Homo sapiens: one gene and its partner. The protein of the gene in region 1 purifies or fractionates together with the protein of each later gene. This does not show direct contact. Each region holds a gene or a part of one and is shown in the gene's direction. Other genes may lie near its edges.

Region 1 (15,190 bases):
CAACATGGTGAAACCCCGTTTCTACCAAAAACAAAAAATTAACCAGGCATGGTGGCACACACCTGTAATCCCAGCTACTTGGGTGGCTGAGGGGCTGAGGTGGGAGGATCACTTGAACCCCGGAGGCGGAGGTTGCAGTGAGCCAAGATCGTGACACTACACTCCAGCCTGGGAGACAGAGCAAGACTCCTCAAAAAAAATTAAACAAAACAAAACAAAAAAAAGATGAGGGCAGGGAATAGTGAAACCCTTGGACATCCTTTTCTGAAGCACGGAGTGAGCAGCAACTTAAGGAGGTGTGGACTGGGCAAGGTGTGTCATGCCTGTAATCCCAGTGCTTTGGTGCTTTGAGAAGCCAAGGCAGGAGGATCACTTGAGGTCAGGGAGTTTGAGACCAGCCTGGACAACATAGTGAGGCCCCATTTCTCTCTTTTTTTTTTTTTTTTTTTTGAGACAGAGTTTCATTCTTGTTTCCCAGGCTAGAGTTCAATGGCGCAATCTCGGCTCACTGCAACCTCCACCTCCTGGGTTCAAGCGATTCTCCTGCCTCAGCCTCCCAAGTAGCTGGGATTACAGGCATGCACCACCAAGCCCAGCTAATTTTTGCATTTTTTAGTAGAGATGGGGTTTCTCCATGTTGGTCAGGCTGGTCTCGAACTCCTGACCTCAGAAGATCTGCCCACCTGGGCCTCCCAAAGTGGTGGGATTACACGTGTGAGCCACTGCGCCTGGCCGAGACCCCATCTCTAAAAAAAAAAAAAAAATTAACTGGGTGTGGTATCATCCATCTGTGGTCCCAGCTACTTGGGAAGATGAGGTAGGAGGATTGCTTGAGCCCAGGAGTTCGAGGCTGTGGTGAGCGATGATTGCGCCATTATACTCCAGCTTGGGATACAGACTTAGACCTTGTCTCTTAAAAAAACGGGTGGCATGAAGTGTGTAAATGACGTGGGTGACATAGAATGAAAACATCCATTAAGTGGATAAAAAGTTGCCAGAGATACGAAGGGAATGAAAAAAATCAAGGAAACACCCAGAATACCATATATTAATACATGTAAAAAGTCCACTTTAAACTCATTGCAAGGGTTACCAGTGAGATAGAGAGTGTGGGGTTAATTTGGTGGTCACAGAGATCTTTTTTTTTTTTTGTAGAGACAAGGTTTTGCTATGTTGCCCATGCTGGTCTCGAATTCCTGGAATCAAGCTGCCTCGGCCTCCCAAAGTGCTGGGATTACAAGTGTGAGCCACCGCACTTGGGAGGTCTCAAGTCTGTCTTGAAAATGCCAAATTTGGCCGGACCTGGTGGCTGGCTCATGCCTGTAATCCCAACATTTTGGGAGGCCGAGTTGGGTGGATCACCTAAGGTCAGGAGTTCGAGACCAGCCTGACTAACATGGTGAAACCCTGTCTGTAGTAAATACAAAAAGTTAGCCTGGTGTGGTGGCACGTGCCTGTAATCCCAGCTACTTGGGAGGCTGAGGCAGGAGAATCACTTGAACCCAGGAGGCGGAGGTTGCAGTGAGCCGAGATTGCACCATTGCACTCCAGCCTGGGCAACAAGAGTGAAAACTCTGTCTCAAAAAAAAAAAAAAAAAGGGGGGAAATTTTATCCTGCTTCTAAGCCTTCATACTGATTGTTCCCTCTGCCTTAGAACACTCTTTGGGGTATTTGCGGAGCTGACTCTTCTCTGTCAGGTCTCTGCTCAACTGTCCCCTCCTCAGAGACCTTTCCTGATTCCCCTGTTTCAAAAGCCACCTCCCCCACCACGGAAAATTGAGTGGCTGAAGTGTGAGAGGGATAGAGAAAGACTTCATTGTATGCCATCTTGCACTCTTTGCATTTCAAACCAAGTGAATTTATTACCCATTCAAAACTACCTGAATTAAATAAATCAAAATTTTAAAAATTGGAAAAAGTAAAAAACCCGAAGTAGCTCCCCTAGTCATTTTCTCAACACATCCTCCTGTTTTATTTTCTTCGTGACACTTGTCAGTGTGCAAGATGACTTCATTTTTTTAGTATTAATTACAGACTGGGCGGGAGAATGGCATGAACCCGGGAGGCGGAGCTTGCAGTGAGCCGAGAGAGCACCCTTGCACTCCAGCCTGGGTGACAGAGCGAGACTCCGTCTCAAAAAAAAAAAAAAAAAAAAAAATTACAGATTGCATCTTGCTATGTTGCCCAGGCTGGTCTCGAACTCTTGGGCTCAAGTGATCCTCCCACCTCAGACTCCCCCAAGTGCTGAGATTACAGATGTGGACCACTGCGCCTGGCGAGATGACTTTATTTATTGATTCCCTTGTTTGCTGCGTCTCCTGACCAAGAGGTCAGCCCCACAGTGGCAAGGATCTTGGTGGGTCAGCCTGGTTCATGACTGTGAGGCTAAGACCTGGCACACAGCAGGTGCCCTGTAACGTATTTGCTAACAGACTAGGCAAAACATGTCTTCTTGTTTTTTACAAGAAAATGTATTTGGAATCACTTATGTAAATAAAGTTTAATAATCAAAACTCTACTTCCCCTCAAAAACAGATGAGTAATAAGAAGGAAAGAGGTTATTGGACTGGGTTATCTCTCAGAATCTGTTCGGCTCTGAATATTTCAAAAACATTTGGTTGGGTTTTTTTGTTTTTTTTTTTTTTTTTTTTTTTTTTCGATTTGGGCTTTTTTCTTTTTGGTCTGGATGTTGGTGGAATTTCCCCATTCGTAAGACTTTTCTGTGAGAGGGAAGTAAGAGAAGAAGAAATAAGCATTTTGGGTTCCTACATTGGCCTTCCTTCCTTCCGCTGGTACATGTAGTTGGGGAAAGGGTCGGTTTTCTTCTTTAGTTCTGTTGAGGCCCCAGAGAAGCAAAGGATCCCCAAAGGACAACAGCTGTCAGGCCTCCATGTCCAAGGCTGAGCCCAAATGCGTGGGGTTGGACTTCCCAGCCCCATCCTGCCCCTTCTGTAACACAAAATGTGGGAGAAGGTAATGAGAAATTCTGTCTTGTCTCCTGGCACCTCTTCCTTTTCCTTTGAGGGACCACCATATCCCATCTCACAATCCATTAAGGTTTGAATGGAGTGGACCCCAACCCCAAGTGCGACCCCAGCCTGGCCAATCAGACACAGTGACTGGTCAGCATGTGACCTGGTGTGGCCAATGAGAACCAGCCCCCAAAGACCACTGCTGCAACTCCGGGGAAATTGGCAAACTTTCTCCACTGGGGAGGACAGGCTGCTGGGGTGTAAGCCTGGAGCTGCAAGTCTCCGCTACCTTAGGAGGAGACCCTGAAAGGTAATGAAGCCAACTCGGAGAAAATAAAAAGAGACCATTCATGATGACATCATCTGACAACTAGATGCAGCCATGCCTTAAGACTCTAAACTCTTCAATTACATGGCCCAGTAAATTCCCTGTTTTGTTTTCCCAGCTTGAATTGGGCTTCCATCTCTCACGACTCAAAGAAAACTGACAAATACCTCCTTCAGCTACTGAGAAATTGTCAACAATCCTCCCTCATCAACATGATAATCACCAAACTCCCACCTCTGCCATGCAAAGGCCTTGGGGCTCTAAACCCAGCTTCCTCCCTCCCATTTCTTCCCTGATGCCACTCCATGCCTTGGTCCACCACTATACATCTTTGGATATCTCCAAATTCTCCTTAGCTATCTGGGCCCCATTACAGCTTCTCTTGTCTAAGACCTGGATCATACTCATGTATGTCCTGATGGTATCTGCTGTGCGTCTAGGCCTTAGAATTGGTCATTAGCATTCCCTGAATGTTTCCATCTTATTCTTGGATGTGGGAAGCACTTGGGCTGATGGGGCACTGCAGAGCGTTGCCGGCTCACATTTCTTGGAGGGGAATCACAGTCTCTTCTCTGCATCTGCGTCTCCCTCCTCATGCCTTGCACAATGCTTCAGGGCTGGGAGTAGGAATGTATTAATATAGCAAGCTGGCTGGGTTGCAGTGGCTCCCGCCTGTAATCCCAGCACTTTGGGAGGCCAAAGCAGGAGGATCCCTTGAGCCCAGGAGTTTGAGACCAGCCTGGGCAACATAGTGAGACCCAGTCTAAAAAAAAAGAGAGAGAGAAAAGAAAGGAAGGAAGAAAAGAAAAAAAGAGAAAGAAAGAAGAGAAAAGAGGAATAAAATATATCAGGCAAATCCCTTATCCTCACTGGCTTCAATTTCCCTGTCACTAAGAGGGGTGGGCGGGGGGGCGTCCCCTCCTAAGAGAAACACTGGAGAACACAGGATCCTTACCTCTCCGCACTCTTCTGAGACCTGGCAGATCTGAGAATAAACTTCAGCAATGACAGTGGCCCTGGAGAGCACAGGAAGGCCCTCAGGAGGGGACTCTCCTCCTTCCACCCCACCCTCATTCCACCCCACCCTTCCTCACCCCAACTCACTTGCAGTCCAGCCCTCCCCCAGGAGGTAAATCTGGGATGTCCTCTGAGGCCAGAGTCCTGAAAACTGTGTTCAGGCTGGGGGGCTTCTGAGCAGAGGCACACAGTTCTGAGAAAGAGTCAAGAGTTAGGCTGGGCACAGTGGCGCACGCCTGTAATCCCAGCACTTTGGGAGACCAAGGCGGGCGGATCACTTGAGGCCAGGGGTTCGAGACCAGCCTGGACAACATCGTGAAACCCCGTCTATACTAACAATACAAAAATTAGCTGGGTGTGATTGTGCATGCCTGTAATCCCAGCTACTCAGGAGGCTGAGGCAGGAGAATCGCTTGAACCCGGAAGGCAGAGGTTGCAGTGAGCCAAGATCACGCCACTGCACTCCAGCCTAGGAGACAGAGCAAGACTCCATCTCAAAAAAAAAAAGAAAAAAAGAAAAAGTTATGGCACAGCCTTCACTGGCCAACCACCCCTCCAGCTGGGCCCCCAGAGTCTGCTCACCAGCGATTCTGCAGCCCAGGGCTGCGTCCAGTGCTAGCTCCCTCCTGATCGCCTCCTCAGAAGGCCTAGGGGCCCCAGGGAAGCAGACCAGGATGCAGGTCATGTTGTCCAGGCTGCCCTGAAGCCGGTGGAGAAAAAGGAGCCCGGTGGGGGAGAGTCCAAGGCAGAGCTTCCCAACAATCCCCAGGTTCAAGTCCCCCACTTCATTCTACTTATGCCCATTTCTTTCGCGTCCCACCCACCTGCCAATCCTCTCTTACTGGGACCAAACCCGGTCCTAGGCGCTCCCAATTGAGAGAACAATGCCTTTTCCCTAAAGCTCCGCCCGCTCTGATGTTTACCTGCTCTTCCACCTTCCAGCACTAATCAATACTTCCGGCCCGGCTCCTACGACCCAGAATCGCCCCTTTCCAAAAGACCACGCCCTTTCTCTTAAGTCCCTTCCACTAACTCTCCCGTGCCTCAAAGCATCCCTCAGGCTCCGCCCCTGTATTTTGGCCCTGCCCACTTCAGGCCACGCCCTTCGCTTGAGTCCTATCCCCTCCTTTGCTAGCTTTACTCTTGCCTCTCTATCAAAGCCCTCCTCCCCAAAACCCCGAGGCTCTCTCCCTCTGCTGCACCAAGCCCCAAAGGTACCACGCCACGCCCCCAGGACCTTGCACAGACACGTGTCCAACAGCTGCGCGCAGAGAAGCTCTGGGGCCAGGCCCAAGCGGAGGCGTGAAGCCACCAGTCCCGCCAGGGCAGCACCAGACACAGTGTCCCAGACGCCATCAGAGGCCAGGAGCATGAACTCGTCCTCAGCCTGGCGTGCCAGTGCGGCCACCTCTGGCTCCGCAGAAACGAGCTGTAGCTCGGGGGGCCTCCCCGGAGCCTCCTTGTAGGTAAAGTCGCCCAACGCTCGCGACACGGCCAGAGAGCCCTCGACGCGGCGGCGGCGGATGGTGCCGCCAGCGGCGTGGATGCGCTCGCGTTCCCGGGGTCGAAGGGGCCGGTGGTCCTCTGTGCTGAAGGCCACGGCGCCAGCGCGGCTCAGCACCGCGCGGGAGTCACCGCAGTGCGCCAGGTACAGAAACCGCGGGGAGACCAGCAACACCACGGCCGTGCAGCCGCCCGTTTCCACGCGGGGCCAGAGGGAGCGCAGGCGCTCGTCGGCGCTCAAGAAGGCTCGGCGCAGCGCCTCGCGCACGCCCTCGGGCTCGCTAGGCTCCGGGCCCAGCTCCTGGAGCACATGGCCTGGCAAATGGCGTGCACCGAAGCGGGCAGCTCGAGCCCCACCGTGGCCGTCGAGGACGGCAAACAAGGCCCAGCCCGGGGGCAGACCAGGTAACGAAAGCCAAGTGCAGTGAGCATCCTCCATGCGCGCGCGCCAGCCTTGCGCTGCGCTCGCCCCGAAGCGCAGGCCCCCAGACGCCTCGGCACCCCCGTGCGGCCGCTGGGCGCGGCGCGGCGCTGTCAACAGAGACCGAGGCCCTTCGGGGGCCCTGCGCCCCGCCTCCTCCTCCTCCTCTTCCTCCCTCCCCTCCTTCTCCCTCTCCTTTTTCTTGCAAGCGGTCCAGAGGAGACGCTGCAGCTGGCGGGCCAGGACCGCCATCCTTCAGCCCTGGGATCAGGAAGGCTCCACCCTGTACACCTGCCCGCCCCCTCCATTAATCCCCTCCGCTGTGAGATTTTAAACCATCTAAATCTCCTTCCTGTCCTTTGACCTGCTCTTTAGGCGGGTCACTAGAAGGAATTACACTTCTGGGTCTCCTGTTTCCTGCACCTACAAAGCGGGGTTTGGGATCTGAATCAGGAAAAAAAAAGAAAAAAGATAATACTGTACCAGTGGCAAACTATTACATAGTACTAATGTGTCACACACTGTTATACATCATCATCTCCAGTTTACATATGGAAGAAGAAACAGAGTCACAGAAGTAACCGGTGTTCCAGGGAAACTAATTCTAGAATCTGTGTTCTCAACACAACACTCAGTCCAAGCTCCTCCCACCTCAGTGGTACAGCCCCCAGCCTCAAAACCTGTAAATACCATACTTGGCCGGGCGCGGTGGCTCACGCCTATAACCCCAGCACTTAGGGAGGCCGAGGCAGGCGGATCGCTTAAGCCCAGGAGTTTGAGACCAGCCTGGGAAACATAGCGAGACCCCGTCTCTACAAAAATTAACATTTAGCCAGGCGCGGTGGAACACACCTGTGATCCCAGCTACTCAGGAGGCTTAGGTGGGAGGATCACCTGAGCCCGGGAGGTCGAGGCTGCAGTGAGCCGTGATCGTATCACTGCACTCCAGCCTGGGCAACAGAGCGAGACCCTGTCTCAAAAAGATATATATATATATATATATATATATATATATATATATATATACATATTTTTTTTTTCTTTACTGTTTTTAGTTCGACCCCTCCCCTCTGGGGCTTCGCTTATTTTCTCTTCCAGGCCCCGCCCATCCAGGATTCAGGCACACAGCTCCAGACCCTTCTAATTTTCGCAGACCTGGAATCGCCTGGAATCCGACCCCACCCAGTTATATTTGAATAATTCCCTGTTGCTTTAGCCCTGCCCACGTTTGAGCTCCTCCGCGTGCCCCAAAAGTTTCTGAATCGTTTCATTCGGCCCCCTTTCTCGCTCCCTCTGCAAATCTAGGCTCGGACCCTACCTCAGAGCATTAGAATCTTTCCACCCCCTCCTCAATGGCACCCCGAGCACCACCCCAACCCACCCAGGGATCCACGCTCTCATCCTCTCTGCCGTGGCTCGTTCACCATCCTCTCCCAAGTCCCTCGCCAGACTCCAGGCCTCCTTCCCTCTTCCCCTAAAGGCTGCGCCCTCTGCGATCTAGGCCCCGCCCTTCAGGCCGCTTTCCCCTCCTTCCTGGCTCCGTAGCCCACCCTCTTGGTTCCGCCCCTTTAGTAAGAAGGCCACGCCCCTCCGCCTGATCCTCGGCGTTTCCCCGCCCCTCACCCTCCCTCTGGTACCGCCCCGCCCGTCTTCTGGCCCCGCCCCCGGCCGCGCGCTGCAGTGCCTTCCCCACCTCGGCCCCGCCCGCCCCCGCCGAGCCGAGCACCAGGGCGGCGGCGGCGGCGGCGGCGGCGGCGGCGGCTGGAGCAGCCCGGGAGGAGGAGGCGGCGAGAATGGCAGCGGCGTCGTGGGCGCGGCGGAGATGAGCGCCCGCGACCCCGGGCCCAGGGCGGCACAGCCGGAGTGGGCGGGGGTCCCGATGCAGGCCCGAGGGGGGCCATGGGGCAGGTCCTGCCGGTCTTCGCCCACTGCAGTGAGTAGAGGAAGACTGGGGCCTGGTGTGGGCCCCAGAGGTTCAGGTGGGGTACTCCCCGGTGTCCCCTCGGCGCTTGCCCGCAGGAGAGCCGGGATGGGGGGAGGAGGCATAGGAGACAAAGGAAGCTCTCCCCTCCCCCGCGCTCTGGCGGCGACGGGGGTAGCCTGACCCGGAGGACCTGGACGAAACAGGGCGGAGGTGAGGGGGCACTGAGACAGCAGGCGGGGGGCGCGCTGCGCTCTGGGACGTACCGCCCGGCCCCGCCCGGGAGCGAGGACGCGCGCGGGGAGCTGTCCCCTGGCTCTGGTGCTGGCCGCAGCTGGCGGGGAGGGGGTTGAACGGAGGGTAGAGCCAGGATGGAAAACAGGGGTCTGGCTCCCAATCACTTGCCTTCGCATCCCATCCCCGTTTTCTGTCCAAGAGGCAGCCCCGACCTCGCCCAAACTGTCCAACCCTGTCCCGGGAAAACAGCCATCCGTGGTTTGGGGGCAAGGACTCATGGGTTCTTAGCGGTCTTTACCACTGGTTAATGGTAATCCTGGGGAAGACCCACACCATTCCAGGCCTCCTATTCCCCAGCTGAGGAAACGAGGTGAGGGCACAGGGCGTCAGATTTCAATTTCCAAACCGCATTGAGCATCATCTATGTGCAAAGCTCTGAACTAGCTCTAAGGGGCTGGATTCCCAGCTGAAAACGCCTAGCCTCACAATCTCTGAGCTCACAGCTATAACAGTCCATGTCTACCGTTCTCTGTCCCACACATGGGGGTTCTGACAGCTGGGGATTTCAACACCCTTAGATCTAGCCATTTCCATGTCTCGCGTGTCCAGATGCCAAAATTCTAAGAATTGGTGATTTCAGCATTTTCGAGTATCATCCCAACATTCTATGATCTTGTCGTTAACTTCAGATTACAAAGGGAGGACCACCTCGTCTGTCTCTCCCCACCGCCCTTACCTCTCTGTTCTCACCTCCCACTCCTCTCCTCCTCAGTCACTCTTCTCCAGTCATATCTTCGCACCTCTCAGTTCCTCAGATGCCAAGCATGGTGCCTGGCTCAGGGCCTTTGCACTGGCTTTCTTCTCTACCTGGAAGACGTCCCTGAACATCTGCATGGCTTCCTCACTTCCTTCAGATCTCTGCTCAAACGTCATCTTATCAGAGAAGCCTTCTTGACCACCCTATGAGAAACAGCACCCCTTCACTTTCTCTTCCCCTACCCTTCTTTACTTTGCTCCCTATGCTCATCTGCACCCGACGTCATATATTCACTTGTTTATTGTTTGTCTATCCCAAAGAGTGTCAGCTCTAGGAGGGCAGGGATTTTGTCTGTTTTCTTCACAGCTGTATCCCCAGGACCTAGAACAGTGCCTGGCACATAGTAGGTGCTCAATAAGTGGTTGTTGAACGAATGAATGAATTGAAACCTCCTAAGATTCCTACTTTGAAGACTCTAAGATTAAGATTCCTGGATTTGGACTTCAAAGACTCTGAGCTTCATCAGGCAGTGATGCTAGGTTTTAGAGTCTGTGTGCAGAATGTTCTAAAAATCCCGTGATTCAAATATTCTAAGATTCCAGGACTGGGACACTTCTGTGATTCGGACAGTCTAAGCTTCTAAGAGTCTTCGATTCTTTCCCTCTCGCAGAAGAAGCTCCGTCTACAGCCTCCTCAACTCCTGATTCCACAGAAGGTAAGTGGTGGGGAGCATGTGAAGGGGCTCAGGGCTGGGCAGCTCAGGGACCTGCTGAGGGAAACAAGGCTCTCCTTCACCCACTGCAGGAGGGAACGACGACTCTGATTTTCGAGAGCTGCACACAGCCCGGGAATTCTCAGAGGAGGACGAGGAGGAGACCACGTCGCAGGACTGGGGCACCCCCCGGGAGCTGACCTTCTCCTACATCGCCTTTGATGGTGTAGTGGGCTCCGGGGGCCGCAGGGATTCAACTGCCCGCCGCCCCCGCCCCCAGGGCCGCTCAGTCTCGGAACCACGAGACCAGCACCCTCAGCCCAGCCTGGGCGACAGCTTGGAGAGCATCCCCAGCCTGAGCCAATCCCCGGAGCCTGGACGACGGGGTGATCCTGACACCGCGCCTCCATCCGAGCGCCCTCTGGAAGACCTGAGGCTTCGGTTGGACCATCTGGGCTGGGTGGCCCGGGGAACGGGATCCGGGGAGGACTCTTCCACCAGCAGCTCCACCCCGCTGGAAGACGAAGAACCCCAAGAACCCAACAGATTGGAGACAGGAGAAGCTGGGGAAGGTGAGATGTCCGAGGTGCTGGGACCAAAGCCAAGAGGGGTGGGTGGTTTCTCCTTGGGGCACCTCCAAGAAGAAAGCTCACGGCCTCCTCTCTCTACCGTATCAGAACTGGACCTACGACTCCGACTTGCTCAGCCCTCATCGCCCGAGGTCTTGACTCCCCAGCTCAGTCCGGGCTCTGGGACACCCCAGGCCGGTACTCCGTCCCCATCCCGATCGCGAGATTCGAACTCTGGGCCCGAAGAGCCATTGCTGGAAGAGGAAGAAAAGCAGTGGGGGCCACTGGAGCGAGAGCCAGTAAGGGGACAGTGCCTCGATAGCACGGACCAATTAGAATTCACGGTGGAGCCACGCCTTCTAGGTAAGCAACGTGTATGAAGATGCTGCATTGGCCCACAGAAGGCAAAAGGTGAGAGGATTTTGAATTAAAGGGACCAACCTCGCAAAGGAACAGTACATAGTGGAAAAGGGAAGAGATAGACGTGATATCACATCTGGCTAGACGTGATAAACTCCGCTTTTTAAAAAAATTTCCCCGGCCGGGCGCGGTGGCTCATGCCTGTAATCCCAGCCCTTTGGGAGGCCGAGGCGGGCGGATCACTTGAGGTGAGGAGTTCGAGATCAGCCTGGCCAACATGGTGAAACCCCGTCTGTACTCGGGAGGCTGAGGCAGGAGAATCGCTTGAACCTGGAAGGCAGAGGTTGCAGTGAGCCAAGATCGCGCCACTGCACTCCAGCCTGGGCGACAGAGCGAGACTCCGTCTCAAAAAATAAAAATAAAATAAAATAATCCTCCCTCTTCTGGAGTGCTCCTCCTAGTGGCTGATTTTGGACAGGCCAAATCCCTGAAAAAATACAGTTCTCTCCTTATTTAGATGTGGCCGTAGAATATTTATAAGTAAACTCTGTGCCTTTTAAAAACTCTTCTTTTTGGCCGGGCGCAGTGGCTCATGCCTGTAATCCTAAACACTTTGGGAGGCCGAGGCGGGAGGATCCTTTGAAGCCAAGAGTGCAAGACCAGCCTGGGCAACATAGGGAGACTCGATCTCTATTTGAAAAAACAAACAAAAACCCTCTTTTTCCTGACCACATCTATTGGCCAGTTGTAAAATGACCCAGCCTTACTTTAAAATATGCTCCGCCTCCAGGAACAGCTATGGAATGGTTAAAGACATCATTGCTTTTGGCTGTTTACAAGACGGTTCCAATTTTGGAATTGTCCCCACCTCTGTGGACAGCCATTGGCTGGGTCCAAAGGGGCCCCACCCCCCCTACTCCTGTCCTCCGGGTTCTACTGAAGTGGGCAAAATCCCCGAGAAGCAGCGGTGTCCCCAGCCTCTCACTCGGAGCCGATATGGGGAGTAAAGGTGGGCTTGCGGAACGGGCTGGACGGGGGCTGAGGTCGGCGGAACGGGGTCCAAACTCGCCCTTATCTCCTGCACATCCGGAGCATTTTTATTACTGATCTGCTTCCGCAGCGCTGCAGGCTGGGGCTAGGGGGCCGAGGGGCAGTATAGGGAGGACCCAGAGGGAGCATGGGGTCCCTTCTCCTTCGAGCCAGCACTTTGGGGCCCAGGAGCAGGGAGGACCCCCTCCCCCAGCCTCGGCCCCAGGCAGCGCTGTCACTCAGGGGCCAGACGGGCCAGAACAGCTGCGGGGAGGCCCCCTCCCCCCAGCGTGCCTAAACTTAGCCCCCGCCTCAGGCGACCTGGCCCCTCCCCCATCCACCGGCGCCGGCCACTAGGAGCCTGCCTGGGAGGGCCCTGCTATGGGGAGGGAGGGGCTGCCCTATTTGGAGGTAAATGAGAGGAGATGCATTGGAAGGAGACGGAAGTGAGGGGTGAGCCTCTAAGAGGGACCGGTCGGAGGGGTCAGTTGGAGGGAGTGTGGGAGGATAGAGAGGATCTGGAAAGAAATAGAAAGGTACTGAGTTCCTGGTTTTCAGGACTCAAAGGAAAGCAGATTACTAAAGTTTCTTTTTCTTTTTAAGCCACAGAGTCTCCCTCTGTCGCCCTTTCTGGAGTGCAGTGGTGGGATCATAGCTCACTGCAGCCTCCAACACCTGGGCACAAGTGATCCTCCCACCTCAGCCTCCCAAGTAGTTGGGACTAGAGCCACAGGCCACCACGCCCTGCTAATTTTCTTATTTTGTTTGTAGAGACAGGGTCTCACTATGTTGTCCAGGCCTCAGGTGATCCTCCCGCCTCGGCCTCCCAAAGTGTTGTGATTACAGGAGTGAGCCTAAAGTTTAGACAGATGAGATGAAGGTTGGGGTACAAAGGTCACTGGTCAGGGCTGAGGTTGGGTTTAGGAGGTGTGTTTTAGGGTCTCAGAAAGGGGTCAGAAATTTGAGTTAGGCCCTGGAAAGGAGTATGGCGTGATTAATACATTTAGGACTTAGAAACATGTGTTGCTAAGGGTATCAAGGGGATATCACTTTACACCTGACAGATTGGCAAAAGTTAAAAAGAACTGCAACCCACTGCAGGGCAGGATGCTGGGAAAAGATCTTTCTCTTGCTTCTTGTGGAAATAAGAACTGTTATGGTCTTACTAGTAAGCAGTGTTTCAAAATTTATGACATTAAAAAAATATATATGACCGAGCGCGGTGGCTCATGCCTGTAATCCCAACACTTTGGGAGGCCGAGGTGGGAGGATCACTTGAAGCCAGGAATTCAACCTGGGCAACATAGCGAGACCCTATCTCTACAAAACATTTAAAAATTAGCCAGGTTTAGGAGGTCGAGGTGGGCAGATCACAAGGTCAGGAGATCGAGACCATCCTGGCTAACATGGTGAAACCCCGTCTCTACTAAAATACAAAAAATTAGCCGGGCATGGTGACGGGCGCCTGTAGTCCCAGCTACTCGGGAGGCTGAGGCAGGAGAATGGCGTGAACCCGGGAGGCAGAGCTTGCAGTGAGCTGAGATCGCGCCACTGCACTCCAGCTTGGGCAACAGAGCGAGATTCTGCCTCAAAAAAAAAAAAAAAAATTAGCCAGGCCAGGCATGGCAGCTCATGCCTGTGATCCCAGCTAGTTGGGAGGCTGAGGCACAAGAATCTCTTGAACTCGGGAGGCAGAGGCTGCAGTGAGCTGAGATCATGCCACTGTACTCCAGCCTGGGTGACAGAGGAAGACTTTGTCCAAAAAAAAAAAAAAAAAAATTAGCACGATATCGTGGTGCCACCTGTAGTCCCAGCTGCTAGGAGGCCGAGGTAGGAGGTTTGCTTGACTCTGGGAGGTAGAGGCTGTAGTGAGCCATGATCACGCCACTGCACTCCAGCCAGGGTGACAGAGTGAGACTCTGCCTCTAAAAATAAAAAAAAAAAAAATGTGGCCGGGCGTGGTGGCTCACGCCTGTAATCCCAGCACTTTTGGAGGCCAAGGTGGGTGGATCACCTGAGGTCAGGAGATCAAGACCATCCTGGCTAACACGGTGAAACCCCATCTCTAACTAAAAATAACAAAAAATTAGCCAGGCATGATGGCACATGCCTGTAATCCCAGCTACTCGGGAGGCTGAGGCAGGAGAATCGCTTGAACCCGGGAGGTGGAGGTTGCAGTGAGCCGAGATTGCACAATTGCACTCCAGCCTGGGCAACAAGAGCGAAACTCTGTCTCAAAAAAAAAAACAAACAAACAAACCAAGGTCAGGCGTGGTGTCTCACGCTTGTAATCCCAACACTTTGGGAGGCCGAGGTGGGAGGATTACTTGAGGTCAGGAGTTCGAGACCAGCCTGGCCAACATGGTGAAACCCCATCTCTACCAAAATATAAAAAATTAGCCGGGTGTGGTGGAGCCCTCCTGTAATCTCAGCTACTCAGGAGGCTGAGGCAGGAGAATTGCTTGAACCCAGGAAGCGGAGGTTGCAGTGAGCCAAGATTGTGCCATTGCACTCCAGCCTAGGCAATAGAGCGAGAATCCGTCTCAAAAAAAATAAAAACAAAAACAAAACACACACACACACACACACACACACACACACACAGACACACAACCAGTCCACCCAGCAATTCCACCCTGGGAATCTGTCTCAGAAATAGTCACTCCAGGAGGTGAGAATATCTGTTGGAGGATGTTGCTTGCAGCCCTGCTTGCGGTGAAGGGGTTAGGAAACAAACTGAATGACCCAGCAATAGGTACATGGTTAAATAAAATGAATGAGAGCACAGGAGCACAGCCACAACACAGAATACTATGCAGCTCTTTAAAATAATGAATTAAGGCCAGGCGCGGTAGCACATGCCTGTAATCCCAGCACTTTGGGAGGCCAAGGCGGGTGGACCACGAGGTCAGGAGTTCGAGACCAGCCTGACCAACATGGTGAAACCCCGTCTCTACTAAAAATACAAAAATTAGCCGGGAATGGTGGCACATGCCTGTAATCCCAGCTACTTAGAAGGCTGAGGCAGGAGAATCGCTTGAACCAGGGAGGCGGAGGTTGCAGTGAGTCGTGATTGCGCCACTGCACTCCAGCCTGGGCAATAGAGAAAAAAATAAAAATAAAATAAAATAATTTTTAAAAAATTGCAAATCGGGCTGTGTGCTGTGCCTCACACGTATAATCCCAGCACTTTGGAGGGCTGATGCAGGAGGATAACTTGAGGCCAGGAGTTCGAGACTAGCCTGGGCAACACAGTGAGAGCCACCTACCTCTAAAAACAGAAACAAAAACAAAAATTAGCTGAGTGGTGGTGCACACCTGTAGTCCCAGCTACTGAGGAGGCTGACGTGGGAGGATCACTTG
Region 2 (15,636 bases), on another chromosome or scaffold:
TTCTTACCTGCTGATCCCTGGGCACAATCCCTGGATCTGCCAGGCAGGAGCCATAGTTTGCAGCTCTGCTTTGTCCCCTGGCAAGAGTGCTTCCCCTCTGGGAACCCTGCAAAGTCCAGAGATGCACCGATAGGAAAGACACTGGATGTGATAATAAGTGAGGTACTATTGCTTCTACCTCTTAGTTCCTAGGCTTCTATGTCCTCCCTATTAGAGATAGTGTCATAGAGAAATCCGATTCTGTGCATATATCACACCCCAAAAAATGCCACTCCATCTTTGCAGATTATTACCAGCAAACTAGAATTATAGCTGTACCTTTAGGAGACCATTCCATTATTCTATGAGGTTAGCCCCTGAAATATTACAGAGGTAAGCAGTAATACAGTGTCTAAGACGAAGCGGACCCCACAATCAGGGCTCGTTCTGGCACCTCCTTCACGGTGAAGTGGGTCCCCTGGTTGGAGTTTATGTGTGAAATCCCACGCTTGTGAATCAGGTATTCTATAAGCCACTGGACAGTGCTGGTACAGGCTGAGGCTCTGTGGGGAGGAAAGGTAAATCCATACCCAGAACGTCTATCCTTAGTAAGGATGAACCACTGGCTCTTCTAGGCTGAAATGAGTCTAATATACTCAACTTACCACCAAGTAGGTGATTGATATTTGCAAGGAATACTCTCTGTTACTAACAGATCTGACTTACAAAGTTAGGAGTAGTTAAACCAACCTCAATAAGCAGCAGTCCCTGCTCTTGGGCCCAGGTACAACCTCCATCTCTGCCACTGAGGCAACTAAGCTCATGTGCCCCTTGCTCCAGATCTGGGATGTCTGTTGAGGAAGGCTGACATTAACTGGCTGAGTCCTGTCATCTACTTGGGTTTTCAGTGCCTCTTCCACTTTGTGTCCATTCCCATATGTTCATCCACATGTCTCTAGCCTAGACCTCCATGTTTTCAGTCTTCCAATCCTTCTCTGTCCAGCCTCTGACCAGGCAACGCTGTTAGCCACTGCTCAGAAATCTATATAAATATTCCCACCTGGGGCCACTTTCCCTTCCACACAAAATACATGACTGGTTCAACATTCACAGTTCTGCCCACTGGAAAGATTTTCCCGGTCTACAGATGTTCAAGACCACTCCTGAGTGTAGATGTAATGCAGCCTCCATTCATTTTCAGCTACATCCACATACTGAGCTCATCCAACCGTAAACCAGATAAAGGTTTTTCCTCCCCCTTCAGCTAGTTATCTGAAACCCCAATCTGCTCAGAGAAGTGAACCAGTGGAACCCAGGTGGGGGACATGAGGGTCTGTCCCACACAGCCCTCAAGAAAAGGCAACCTGTTCTTGCAGCTTTTCATGCCCTCTGGTCCCCCTCAGCTTGCTCCTGGGGATCCCAGTCCCAACTCACAATAGATTGCTTCTGGGTCTGTCAAGACTTGAGTCAAGAGGACTCAAGCTCATAATGGGAAATTCTGAATGAACAGGCACTTTTTCCCATGGTCAAGCACTCCTTTACTACCAAGGCCAAGTAACTTTCAAGTAAACTGTTTCTCAAAAGATGTAAGATTGCCTGTTGCAGATGATATAGATCCTTGCTTTAGATCCCCATAGACTTGCAACTGTGATTCTTCCACAGGGGCTTGCCATAATCTTCATATATCTTTTCTCACCACTGATACCTCCAACACCATAGGATCTGCCTGATCATATGGCCCAAGAGGCAGGGCTGCTTGCATCACAACCTGAGCCTCTAGAAAAACCCCTTCCTGGTCTGAGCCCTCTCAAAGCTGGTGGCCTCCCTTCTGTGTCACCTAGCACATAAGCTGAAGTAGTGTCTAAGTGTGTATGTGTTGCTTCCAGAACCAAAGAGTAGGCCTACCAGGTGTTCTGCTTCCTTTTTGTAGCAGAGGATGCAAGATGCATCAATTTACCCTTAACTTGGAGGGGTTGTCAGGGGCAGTGGCCTTGATGCAAAACCCACAGGAGATGTGAAGTTGTGGCAGCTGGAGTCTCTTTGCCAAGTACCCTCCAAACTGTAGGTTCTCTTGAAGGCAGATCTGAGCAGTGAGCCTCCACAGCCACTCTTTGGGTGTTCTGATGTCTCTGTAAGCTTTAAAAAGTGCTTGCCACATGAAAATGATGTAAAATGCAAGAGATGACAAAAATGCTAGAGTGGGATGAAGGAAAGGAAGAGGAATTTAAGCTTTATTTGGAATGCAATCAGTATCTGAAGAATGGCCTACAAGGGCTTTGAGGTGTGCATGCTGAGCTGATATGCAGATTGGTACTGCAACTCTTGGCAAAGATACCACATCCCCCCTTGTCATTCAGTTAGAGGAAAGCCTCTTCTATTATTGGCTATTGTTTCAAATCCCATTCCTGAGCTCTTGGAACCATTCACTCCTCAATTATAATTTACATTTCTTTTACTGTCTAATAATTGATTGCGTTTTTCTTTCCTTCAGCTATGAGTCATTTAGTAGCTACTTACTCCTTTGCTTTCAACAATATTGTGTACCTCCCTTCTTTATGCAACTGCTTTATGAAAAGGTTATCTCATCAATTTTTACAACTTTTAACAACATCTCAATACTGACACTCTTCAAAATGCTTTTAGATTCCCTTGCTATCTCCAAGTCGTGCAATTTCAAATACTGAGTTGCCTTTCAGTCATAGTTTCAGAACAAAGCGTTGTGATTTTAAATGTAGGATGAGAGATGAACTCATCGCCATGTCTCCTCGGATGCCTGGGATTTCTTTTTCAGGAAGTCTCTTCTGTTCTTACAATCACAGATTGAAAGAGAGACTTGAAAGAGTGGTAAACCTTCATTCCCTTCATTCCTTCCCTTGGTAGGGTGCCTCTTAATTCAAGAAGATCATTGCATTATAAATATCTAGAAGGGTATGCCTTTACTATATCCATAAAGTTAAACAACATGCCAATGATTACTGAAAATTGTTTCAACCATAGCAATCCATTAAATCACTCTGTCCTCTGAACTCTTACGATACTTGGCACTTATTGGCTACTTGTAGTTATCTCCCTTGTATTTTTATTATTTTTCTTTTTCATCTCCTGTCTCTTTAGAGATATTTTATATCCTTAAGTGCAAAGGCTGAGCCTTACTTCTCTATGTCTCCATACCTAAGACAGTAACCATGTACACATATATAAGATGAATAAACATATGCACACATATACATACATATACGTACACATTTTGTGGTTTGGTTCAGGCACTACACCTCTAATACAGACCTGCAATCCACTCTGTCTTCAAGTTACCACTCTTTCAAGTCTCCCTTTCATCTGAGGTTACCTTTTTTATTGTTAGAACTTTCCTGAAACCCTCTGTGAGCCTCATCATTAGACATGGATGGTGTCCAGGTCTATGTGGAGCTTTCCCCATTAGGAAGAGGAGGCAGAGGGCCACAAGGGACGCATCATGAGAAGAAACCAAAGCATTGCCCTTGAAAGTTAAATAGGCTCAGCTGGTGTTTTTAGATCAGAATTAGACTATTTCTAAATCAGACTCTTGGCTTCTAGGGCAGGATTGCCTAGTTATACAAGATAAGCCAACAAATATCCAGCAATTATACAAAATTCTGGTACCATAAGGCTAATAGTTGGAAAACAACAGATAGCATAAAGTTAAGGAGACTAGAAAGGGATAAGAAGATGAAAAATACACAGAGAATGACACAGCTGAAGTGGTGGGAGATGAAGAGGGAGAAGAGAAGCACAAATATGGGCATCATAGAAGCCAAGGAGATGAGTGTCCCCAAGTATAAAATTCACTGCTGCCACTAGCAGGATAGGAACTGAAGATATGCCATCATATCTGTCAAACAGAAGGTCCCTAATGGCTAGAAAAGCTTCACTAGACCGGTGAGAACAGAATCCAAATCAAGTAGTACGTAAATTGGAGGCAGGGACATAAAGACCAGAATACACTCTTTCAAGATCTGCAGTTTCAAGAAAAGACATAGAGGACTTAAGGAGATGGTAGACCAGCAAATTAGGACTGTTTTAATATGGAAAACACAAGAGCTTGTTTGTTGGCTGAAAGAGAAGAAATTAAAACATATTTAAAAGAGAGAAGGTTTGGAGGCCAAGACGCGTGGATTGCTTGAGGTCAGGAGTTCGAGACCAGCCTGGCCAACATGGTGAAACCCCGTCTCTACTAAAAATACAAAAATTAGCCAGTTGTGGTGGCACACACCTATCATTCCAGCTACTCAGGAGACTGAGGCAGGAGAATTGCTTGATCCCATGAGGCAGAGGTTGCGGTGAGCCAAGACTGCACCACTCCACTCCAGCCTGGGCAACAGAGCGAGACTCCATCTCAAAAAAGAGAGAAAGAGAAAGACAGAGAGAGAGAGAAGGAACTGACCCAGAACTTGGGGAGGAAAAAGGCTATCTTTTCCTCTTGGAGGCAGGTGAATGGGAAGAGGAAGAAAATGGGAACCTGTGTAAAGTTTTTGAAGAGAGGAAAGGTGCAAGTGTTCCTAGCTCCTTCTTCCTCTGTGAGACAGAAGACAGTGTCCTCTGCTCAGCAGGAGAAAGCTGCAGTGGAGATGGGCTCCAGGATGGTGATAAATATCAGGAATCTGCCTGGGAAAAGTTGTGCTATGTAGCATGGAGGACTTTGAGGAGAACCAACGGAGTGTTCAGTGAGAGTGGCAATGAGGGAACGCCGTCAGAGTGGAATTGTAAAATCCCAGTTTGCAATTTTCAGCTGGACCTATACTCTCAAATTCCAGAGAGTTGGCCTTACTGGACCTTACTTGCTGGATCAAAGTCAAGTCCAGGCTATGTCCGAGGCCCGAGTGAATAGTGGAAGTCTCAGAAGGGGATGTTACTGAACAACGGCTGTCAGAGGAAGAAGAAAAATGGGCATTATTTACTTATCAACCTACTTATTTTTAATTTTTGACCTCTCCTACTGAATTGCCTACTGATCATCTCTGGGGTATACTTCTGGATCATTGTCTCCTAAATAAATATATCTTCTGCAGCCCCCATAATTTACTCTCCTTCCTCCTTTAAAAAAAAAAAAATCTAGACAGCAACATTATCATTCACCCAGGCAGCTAATCTAAAAAAATAAGAAATAAAAGTCATCTTTACTGCACCTTGTTGTTCTCCGCCGAGCATTTGAAAGCTCTCAATGTGTTCTCATCCTCTCTCCAATCAAGGACAGGAATAAAGAACCTCCTCTAAAGTCACACAGACCTGGGTTTGAATCCCACCTCAACCATTTCTACCTTGAATAATTCTGTACCTATGAATGTGCTAAACCTTATTTTCTCCTTCTGTGAAATGGTTGTACGACTAGTACAAATCATCTACAACTATGAGATTTAAATGAATTCATACCTGTAAAAAAAGCTTAGTATGGTATCTGTCATACAGTAGTTGCCATAAAAGACTTGAAGACCATTAATTTTGGAATTCTCTTCCTCTTCTGATTTCACACTGCCTGCAAAGTTTCTGACCATATTTCTTAATTTTTATATTTATCACGGACAAATTTCTTGAGTTTGTAAATTCTTTATTGCAAATATTCAAATTTTGATTATTTGATTGTATAAATCAAGATGGTAACACTTTTTGACTTATATATCAAGTGATTTTAATTGTATGTGTTTTTCTACACACTTTGAATCATGGTTTTTAGACAATAAACACCTACAGATTAGCTTTTTGTCATTTGTAAATTTTTTATTAAAAACTCTCAATAATCAGTCGGGGTTTTTTTGTTTTTTTGTTTTTTCTTTTAGAGATGGGGTCTTCCTATTTTGCCCAGGCTAGTCTCAAACTCTTGGGCTTAAATGATCCTCCCGCCTCAGCCTCCCAAAGTGCTGGGATTACAGGCATGAGCCACCTTGTCCAGCCAATAATTAATCTACTATGTAAATAAAATGAAGTCACCAATAAATTTTTAAATACACCTTCATTTTTTGAAAGACATCATTAAATTCCAGCAAAACATCCTTACTAATATGTTGTTAACTGGTCATAGTCACACTCAAAATAGCTTACAATATGTTATAAAATTTTTTAGAATGGAAATATATAATAACTAGGTTTTTAACATGGAGGAAAACAAACTATAGGGTAGTTGCTGGCCCCTGGATTTTCATGGCCTCCCCCGTTCCACCTGTCAAACCAACATTCACATTCTCTTCTTACTAATCCCTTCTTAAAGCTAAATTCAACTCCCCCTTATCCAGGGCAAAGGTTCAGAGGGAGAGGGAAAATAAGGACATTACTAACCCTGACTATTAAACTGCAACATTATTCCACTGTCTACTATCTGCTATGCCATCACTCTCAGCATCTCTTCCTCTTCCTAGTATTCTCTCCCCGTCTTCTCCAACCGTTACCATTGACCCTGAACACTTACACTAACACATATGTCTTCGTGACTGGGTAAACATTCCATTGTGATGGCAGCTGGTAAATGGAAGCATGGTTTATATGGTTATTTGCCAAAAATTGTTTAGTAATTTACCAAAAATACCAACTTTCTTTCATAAAGAAAGTCAACATCAGAGCTAGGCTAGGATTAAGATTAGTTAAAATTTAATCATACATACCTAGTGGTAAAGTCTCACTTTTAATTAAGGTTCTTTGCAAGGCATCTATTAGGGATAGCCACAGGAAAAGAGTAAGCAATAAATGGCCATGTCTTTTTTCCTCCCCAAATCTTCATATTCAATCCAGATGTGTGTGCACCTCCCACCACAAATAGACTAGATATCCATTACAGAAGCCAGAAACTTGGTTTGTGCTCTGTGTTCCAGAAAATCCCTCATTTGCATGACAACTAATTAGGAAGAGTAATAAATAAAGAGATAAAGGTTTCCAAAATTTATCCCCTTAAAGAACATATATGGGTCCTAACACACTGGGTGGATCCAAAAAAAAAAAAAAGGCAAAGGGACAAAGACTACTCTATGAGGAAGTCTAGTTTAGAAAGAGACTCCCCCATTCAAAATATTGGCTTGAGCAACCACACTTTTTCTCATATCATACAGAACCTCAAAATATATGGGAATGCATCTTTCTACATTAGCTCCTGATTCTGGTGTATCCCATAACAGGGAAATGGAATTATGGCTCAGCCGCAAAGCCCTGGCCCTCATCTTCCCAGCGGCCTAAATCAATCCCCAGTCCAGGACAAGATGCTTCGAGAGATGCATAATTATTTCAGGCCACTAGGGTAAGCACTATTCCTGGCAACTCTGCGGGCAGTGCCATGGATGAGGGCTTCTAATTCTCTTTGGTGATTTGGTTCTGCATAAACTGAGATTTTTCTTTCAGTCTTTCAGCCAGATAAGTAGGAAAGGTCGGCTCTCGTCCTGAGAGAGAGGCAATCAAGGTCAATTTCAGTTCCTTTTCTGTGCAGTTTAGTCTACTTTTTCCCAGGCTGTCTTCCTGACACCTGTCCTTATATCTATATCTGATTATCAAATACTTAGTGAGAGAACCTTTGGCAGCTTCTGATGCTCGCATAGTCACCCAAAGGCCTCTCAGCCTAAGAAATAGCAGGAATACACTCCAAATCAGTTTCCTTGAGAGGCCAAACTAAGACCCTAGGCTGTGAAAGTGGGAGAAGTTTCTCCCGTGGGTATTTTGAGGGTGAGGTGGAGAATAATGCTTTCTCTCACCAGAGGCAATGCTGATCCAACTTGCCTATTACCAAATCTCTAATTTTTGGTTTGGCACTGCAGCCACAATATACTCAGTTATTACCGAATATAGAAAGAGAAAGGCAAATCTTGTTAGTCCCATTCAGAAGATGGTGAAATGGAGGTTTAAAAGTTTAGAAGAGTTGCCTAAAGTGAATTCGACAAAGCAGTGTTGTAGCTAGAAAGTAGACCAGCTGACATCTGTCCCTGGTTTTGTAGGTCACAGTTTCTTTGCAAGTTTAGAGCAGTGCTTTACTTACCATATTCCTCCTTGCAAACCTCTATTTACTTTCTTAAACAGTGGATACCAGTGGAGAGGTGTGCATTCCAGACACTTATACAATGTACACAGACCGAGCCGTCTACCTGTTGGGCACACAGCTCCAGGCTCAAGAATCTCTAAGGCTGTTAAGAAGCACAAACGAGGCACGAGAGGGGGCAGGCTCTAATGTAAAAGGAATATCCTGTACCACTGCAAAGGCCGATTGAAAACATCCTCTTCATCACTATTAATAAAAAACTAACCAATATATTCTGTGCTTTTTCAAACTGTACTGCTCACCCTCAGTGTCTTCATTAAATAAATGCAAACACGTGTGCTTTGAAACGGGTAGGTGTAAAAGAACACTCTGCACAATTATATCTAGGCTGCCGCAGATTTACATCACATGCATACATATATCTAGGCGATATTAATTCACGATGACAGCTGAGCATGACAAATGCAACAGTACACAAGTTGGAATGCGAAAACAATGCAACTACAAACCCCATGCAGACAAACACGCATACAATGAGTTTTCCCTCAACACACACGTGGCCGCACTCACAGGAGCTTAACCACTTTGAAAAACCCCAAACACAAACACCGGGGGCTCCGGCGCCCGCGAGCGGCCCCCACACAGGCAGCCGCGCCTTCATCTCCAGGCAGGGATTCTCGTGCGTCCCCGGGTACACTCGCCCTCCCACCGGCATCCCACTGCGCGAACACATGCGCGCCAGCCGGTCCCCGCGCGCGCCCGCCTGCCGAGGAAGCGGCGGCTCCCGGGGCTGGGGGCAGGGCCCGGTGGGGCGGGAGCGCCGCGGGGCCGGGCCTCGGCGCCCGGGGAGGGGACGAGGGGCGGGCGCGGGGCGGTGCCCGGCTCACGTGGGCGGGCGGGAGCAGCTGAAGGTCCGCTCGGGAACCTGGGCTGTCCTCTCGCGCGCGGCGCTGGCCCAGGCGGCGGCGGCGAAGGAGGAGGAGGAGGAGGAGGAAGGCGGCGGTGGCGGCGGCAAAAGAGGAGGGAGGACGGGGGCGGCGTCGGACTGGAGCCGAGCGGCAGCGCGAGCTGCCCAGGGCGCTGTCGTGAGCTCGCCCGCCGGGCCCCCACCCCCGAGCTACACCCTGCCGTGCCCAGCACTGCCCGCGTCCGTGCCCCTGCGGGGAGCGCGCCGGGGCTGCCCCCCGAATGACGGGCGGAAGGTTCGACTTCGACGATGGCGGCACCTACTGCGGCGGCTGGGAGGAGGGCAAGGCGCACGGGCATGGCATCTGCACGGGGCCCAAGGGCCAGGGCGAGTACTCGGGCTCCTGGTCGCACGGCTTCGAGGTGGTCGGAGGCTACACCTGGCCCAGCGGCAACACCTACCAGGGCTACTGGGCGCAGGGCAAGCGGCACGGGCTGGGGGTGGAGACGAAGGGCAAGTGGATGTACCGGGGGGAGTGGTCACATGGTTTCAAGGGGCGCTACGGGGTCCGGCAGAGCCTGTGCACCCCCGCTCGCTACGAGGGTACCTGGAGTAACGGGCTGCAAGACGGGTACGGCGTGGAGACCTACGGGGACGGAGGTGAGCGGCGTAACGGGCGGCTCGGCTGCTCCGCGAGCTGGTGCGGTGGGCTCTGCCCCGGCTGCGGGGAAGCGGGGAGGACGCCGGGCGCACGTGTCCGGAAACCCGCCAAAACACCTGGGGGCGCCTCCCACCCCCGCGCCCGCGCCCGCCTTTCCCAGAGAGGGCGCTGGGACCGGACTGGGGCGCGAGGGCTGGATCTGACCCCGTTCTTGGAGCGGGCCGTGTATCCACACTCAGGGGAGCTAGGCGTGAATGTACCTGGCCGGCGCCAGCGCTGCGCTGCCACCGGGAGGGAGCGCCGCCCGGGAGGGTTGGGCTGGAGAGAGGACGCTGTCACTTGAGCCCGTCACATTACGTTCCTGATCCCTCCCTCTCCCGGCCGGGTTTGAAATCGCCACTCCCGTGGAGTTAGAGCGAACACCCTGAGCGGGTGAGGTTGGCGGTCCGTGCTGACCGCTCCCGGGATTGGTTTCACGTGGAGTCGTATTTCGCTTCTGGTCCTCCAGTAGCCTAAAGATAGAAGCCAGAACCCCGTAACTAGGATGTTGGGGAATTGTACCTTATTTGGGGGTGCATTTGGAAACGTCCTAGTTATGGGAGCAGAAAGGCCACCTGATGCAGGTGGAGTTCAGAGTGTGTGAGTTCCTAGTTTTCATTCCGTTTCTTAAAGTATTGGTCTTAAAAGAGTAGCAGTCTTTGCTGACCTGGAGATCTTGGACAAATTACTAGGAAGATATTTTAGAAATGGGTAATGAAGTCTACATTTTAAAGAATACAATTAGCAGGTGTGTTCCTATAGCTGCTAAGTTAGCAGCTACTACTCCTGAGAATGGCAATACTGAAACAATAATTTGCATTATGTGTGACCTAAGCCAGTATTCCTGGCTGTGAACAAAGATCACCTTATTTTAATATTTAACAATATTTGCCAAAGAGATTGTGTATATACCAGGACAGAAGTTCCTCTTTTATTAGGAAAAGTATACATTATTGAAACAGGTGTCAAAACCTGATGAATTTCCTTGTGTAATACGCTGAGAAAGATATTCATGAATAGCTTATGCTTTAGCAAAGTGCATTTCCTGATAAACATAATCATATTTAGTTGAAAAGGGTTGTAGGAGGCGACATCACTTTTTGGAATTAAGCAGCTCAGAGTTGGAGGATATTAAAGGGATGCAATTAAAAGTTTCTCCAGCCCACTGCAACCCCATTTATACCATTGCTTATATAAAAGCTTACACAATTTGTACACTTCACTTAGTCAGAACACTTGGGCCGTGTTTCAAATGCAAAATGGCAGAATGGTAGAACTTGCTAAAAAGGACATCTTTTCATCCTACAGTATAAATTAAGCATATGGTTCTCATGGATTAAAAGAAAAAAACGTTCTCTAATAGTTTTATGTGGGGCTGAGTCCCGAGTTTCACAGTAGTTAATTGGGACCCTTAAATGTTCTGAATGGGCATAAAGTACCTGGTTGACAGCGCTGTAAATATGTCAGTTTGTGACTGGATTTTGTTGGAGGCCCCAGCTCTACTATATAACTAAATTCCATGCTCAAAAGTAGAAGGCAAAATTTATTGTTTTAAATGTGTGCATTATTTTATAATCTTTTAAGAAGGCCAGGGATGGTTCTCTTCAGTTTTGGAAGGTTAAAAATCGTCTCCTTTTAAAGATACTATTCATTAAACACACTCTCTTGGTTTAGAGTATTCATTATACCTAGTAATCAAAATATATATAGCACAGTAGAGGCTGTCTGTGTACATGTCGTAGAAACCCAAATAAGTCTCCAGAATGATTTTATGAATAATCTGCCTTCAGTTTTAAAATAAACTTAAAAAAAAACTTAAAACTTGGCATCATCCTGGGTGGTACTGTGGTTTTCTTCTTCTACCAAAAAAAAAAATCTAATATGCTACAGTTAGGAAGAAAAACCTTAAAAATCACTACTGAATGTCTACTCTATGCTAATAGATTTTCTACTGTCTCATATGTAACTATTTCATTAGAAAGTTCTCAATCATAAAAAGGGAGTCTAAAGCAAGTTTATTGCTGTAACTTATTTCATACAAAGGTTTTGGCCAAAATAGGAATATCACTAAAAAATTAGCTTGTTTTCTGCTGTTCTCACTAAGGAGTTAGCTTGTTTTTGTTTGCACTCTCCCCATCGCCACATGTCCATCCCTGTACACCCTGTATCAGATTCAGGGAAAATCTGATTCCGAGTTTTTTTGTGGTGACATTAAACTGGAGGAGGAAGGAAGCAGTAATTCCATGTGAGACGTATCACTTATTTTATTAGTGATTTGTGTATTACATGTTGCTGAAATAGAAACCCCCTGAATATTAACAATAAGTTAGTATCATACTCATGAAATCCAAGTCTAGGTGCCCAGAATTTTTTGTGCTAATTCTGATCTGTACTTTGTTTTTTCACTTGTCATAAAACTATTGAAAATATCTGGGAAAACACAACGTTTTGTTAACTAGATGCATACTTGCACATACCCATTCGGAGCATATAAACTGAAGTTTGGCATAGTGCAGTGCAAATTTGACTGAAACTCCTAAACTGGATGCCTTCCACTACAAGATTGTGTAGTTAAAATGACTAAATCTAAAAAATTAGCTCCCAAATGAACACAGTTTAAAACTGGTAAAAGTAATTTTTATACTTGTGAAATATGCATCTACATTTTAGGAATCAAGAGGAACTAATTAGAACTTTATTTGAGCAGCAGGGAGAAGTTGGAACCCACCTGCTTCATAAAGAAATAGGCCCTTTCTTATTCTAGGTTCATTGACTAAACTAAACCTATTTTAAATTTCAGATGAACTGCTAACAGTTTGACTGCAAATTGGTTTCTAGCAATTCTGTGGAGGAATTCTTTCATATACTGTGATTTAACAAAATAGGAGAGGAATGTGGCCAATGCTCTTGTCCCCCCCTTCCCTATTTGACAGTTAAGCAGAGACTTAAACTTTCTAATTATTGCTGTTGCCTTAAACAGCTTGGATTTTCAAGCCATACTTTTTTGGAAATTCTAAATACTGTACTAGTCTTATTTTTGGAGATAACAGTTTAAAGAAACTAGCTGTTAATTTTCCATCAGTGTTAAACATTTACCAAGATGGTATGGCTGTGTTTTAAAAGTGCAGATACTTATTGATATCAAACAGCATCTCTGCAAATTGTTCTAGCAAAATTAACTTGTCACTATAGACAAAAGTTAGGAGGATGTGATTATAGCATTCTTTTAACCAACAAAATATTAAAAATAAGGTGGTTTATTTTAGTATCTTCAAGCCAGATTGTGAAACTTTCATCCTAGAATTTAAATTTTACCTGTATAGGCAAAGGAAAAGTCAAAGTCAAAATTTCCTAATAATTCCATTCCCATTCCTGTTAAGATGGCGGTATTTGGAGATGGCCAGTATTCAATAGGAAGCTTCTTAGCCTGAAATGTTTTACATGACTATCTTATCCTCTTGAGTTAATCTTTCAGAGAAAACTGTGGGCCACCCACCTCCTCAGAAGTTCATAGATGTCAAGTTAAGACTTCACATCTACCCAGAATATGACATTTACAGTACCAGACCCACTTAGTATTTCATTGTATATCTACTATTGCCTGTGTCACATATGCCAGAATGAACAAAAAGAGAAGGTAGTCTTGAAATTGGTCAAAACCGTTGACTTGGGAGTCATTATGGTTTTAACTTTTAAGTGCAATGAAATAACCAGCCATTGTTAACACAGTTATATAAAACCACTAGCATTTTTGCCCGGTGTTTTGAAAATGAATATGTGCCATGCAATGGAAATCTGTGCATGGAAATATAAAATGCAAAGTGACTGCAGGGTAGATCTATATAATCAGAAATGGAAAGAGGTCAAGACAGACTAATCATTATTTGTTTTCTATGACATTGTGAATTGTTATGAATAACACAGAAGTAATTACATTTTAAATTTTCCAGATAGCTTCTTTTGAGGGATACTGTAAATTAAAATTTACCCTTAATTAAAGGAAATTGATTTTGAAAAGAAACTTCTAAATTCCCTAATTTAACATTCATTTCCTCCTAAGATTATTTTAAAACCTGTACCAGGTTATTTTTTAATGTCTTTGCTTATTTATTTAGTAGCAAAAAATTCACTACAAATGCTCTAGATGACAGACTATCATGAAAAAGCATAATATTTGTTGACAGAGTCATCTGGTATCAACATTTTAATAGATAGTGTCAAATATACCTTTCCTCTGAGATGAAGTCCAAAATGGTAACAGTAGAAGATTTCATCTGGCCTTACATCAGTTTCTCCAAGAGTAAAGGGTATACTTTTTAGCCACCATAGCTTTTTACCGTCAACATAGTCATCAAACACCCTCCATCCACAAACACAGACCAGAGGACACATGAGAATTTTGTGTTCTCATACGAAGTAATTCCTGCCCTCAGGGTGCTTCTAGTCTGTGGTGTGATTCACAATGCAGTGGCAGCTAGGGAAATCCATAGAGGATGCAGAGATTTGGCAAATGATACGGCACAAAGCTTTGGCCTTTTCACTTAGAAGCACAAAAATGTTAAATTACTCATTTTTTTCATAATTCACTGTATTCATAATATATATTGTGGTTGTCGATTCTCTCTTAGCTCAAAAAGGTTCACCCAAATTCAAATGATAATCCTGAATATTCAACAGTTTTGTCTACACTAAAAAAAGAGATGCTGAATGTAGCAGAAAATTTAAGACGTTCATTTGATGACTGTGTCCCAAGTATTCCGATTTAAGCCTGTATACTTCTTGGAATGTTATACTGACATAGACCTAAAAGTCATTTTTTACAGTTTTCCAGCTAAATTAGTAATATTAGAATAAAATTTACACATAGAATTCATTTCATCTTCTACTGTTTCCTTGTCTTCTTCCCAAGAGGAATTTTTGATGCATTAATTTCAGAGGAGAATGTTGTTTCCCAGTGTTCACTTTTTGTATTAGAAAGTAGTGGTTTTCCTCTGAAATACTTGCATAAAATTTTAATGAAAAGCAAAAATTATCTGACTACTAGAAAATTCTGTGCAATGACATTAAAGCCTTACACCCAAAATTACAGGGCGGGGATTCACAAGTGGATGCAAAGTATCCCCCAGGGTTGACTTGGAAATGGGTCAGATTTGACCTTGGGCAGGCCTGCGCCAGTGTGCGCTGGATGGTGCAGGTGACGGTGCAGCTCTGCCCCCGACTCACGGTGCTTTCTTGCGGTCTCTCCAAGGTACCTACCAGGGCCAGTGGGCCGGAGGCATGCGGCATGGCTACGGCGTGCGCCAGAGCGTGCCCTACGGCATGGCCACGGTGATCCGCTCACCGCTGCGTACCTCGCTGGCCTCGCTGCGCAGCGAGCAGAGCAATGGCAGCGTGCTCCACGACGCCGCAGCCGCCGCCGACAGCCCGGCCGGCACCCGCGGCGGTTTCGTGCTCAACTTCCACGCAGACGCTGAGCTAGCGGGCAAGAAGAAGGGCGGCCTCTTCCGGAGGGGCTCCCTTCTTGGAAGCATGAAACTTCGCAAGTCCGAATCCAAGTCTTCCATCTCGAGCAAGCGCAGCTCTGTCCGCAGCGACGCGGCCATGAGCAGAATTAGTTCCAGCGATGCCAACTCCACGATCAGCTTTGGCGATGTAGATTGTGATTTTTGCCCGGTGGAAGACCACGTGGACGCCACCACCACGGAAACCTACATGGGCGAGTGGAAGAACGACAAGCGCAACGGCTTCGGCGTTAGCGAGCGCTCCAATGGCATGAAGTATGAAGGGGAGTGGGCAAATAACAAGAGGCATGGATATGGCTGTACCGTGTTTCCTGACGGCTCCAAAGAAGAGGGAAAATACAAAAATAATATTCTGGTCCGTGGGATAAGGAAGCAGCTTATACCAATAAGACATACAAAAACTAGGGAGAAGGTGGACAGAGCAATTGAAGGCGCCCAAAGGGCAGCTGCCATGGCCAGAACCAAAGTGGAAATAGCAAATTCAAGGTAAGTAAATGCAGGGTGGTTGGTTTTGCTGGGTTGGTCAGAACAATGGAGTATCAAA

Evidence for each region.
Region 2: the proteins of RTN2 (region 1) and JPH1 purify together in Homo sapiens (affinity purification with mass spectrometry; 3 studies listed by BioGRID and IntAct, with this or other methods). This does not show direct contact.

Annotation. Positions count from the first base shown.
Region 1 is NC_000019.10:45,489,777-45,504,966, reverse strand, and holds the start of RTN2 (reticulon-2), read left to right. Parts: upstream 1-7,919; 5' UTR 7,920-8,141; coding exon 8,142-8,175; intron 8,176-9,827; coding exon 9,828-9,872; intron 9,873-9,961; coding exon 9,962-10,441; intron 10,442-10,546; coding exon 10,547-10,801; intron 10,802-11,588; coding exon 11,589-11,807; intron 11,808-15,190. Other genes in the region: PPM1N (putative protein phosphatase 1N), read right to left, coding at 2,767-2,950, 4,406-4,511, 4,901-5,018, 5,556-6,494. UniProt on the Homo sapiens protein: Inhibits amyloid precursor protein processing, probably by blocking BACE1 activity. Enhances trafficking of the glutamate transporter SLC1A1/EAAC1 from the endoplasmic reticulum to the cell surface.
Region 2 is NC_000008.11:74,314,803-74,330,438, reverse strand, and holds the start of JPH1 (junctophilin-1), read left to right. Parts: upstream 1-8,898; 5' UTR 8,899-9,151; coding exon 9,152-9,530; intron 9,531-14,818; coding exon 14,819-15,578; intron 15,579-15,636. UniProt on the Homo sapiens protein: Junctophilins contribute to the formation of junctional membrane complexes (JMCs) which link the plasma membrane with the endoplasmic or sarcoplasmic reticulum in excitable cells.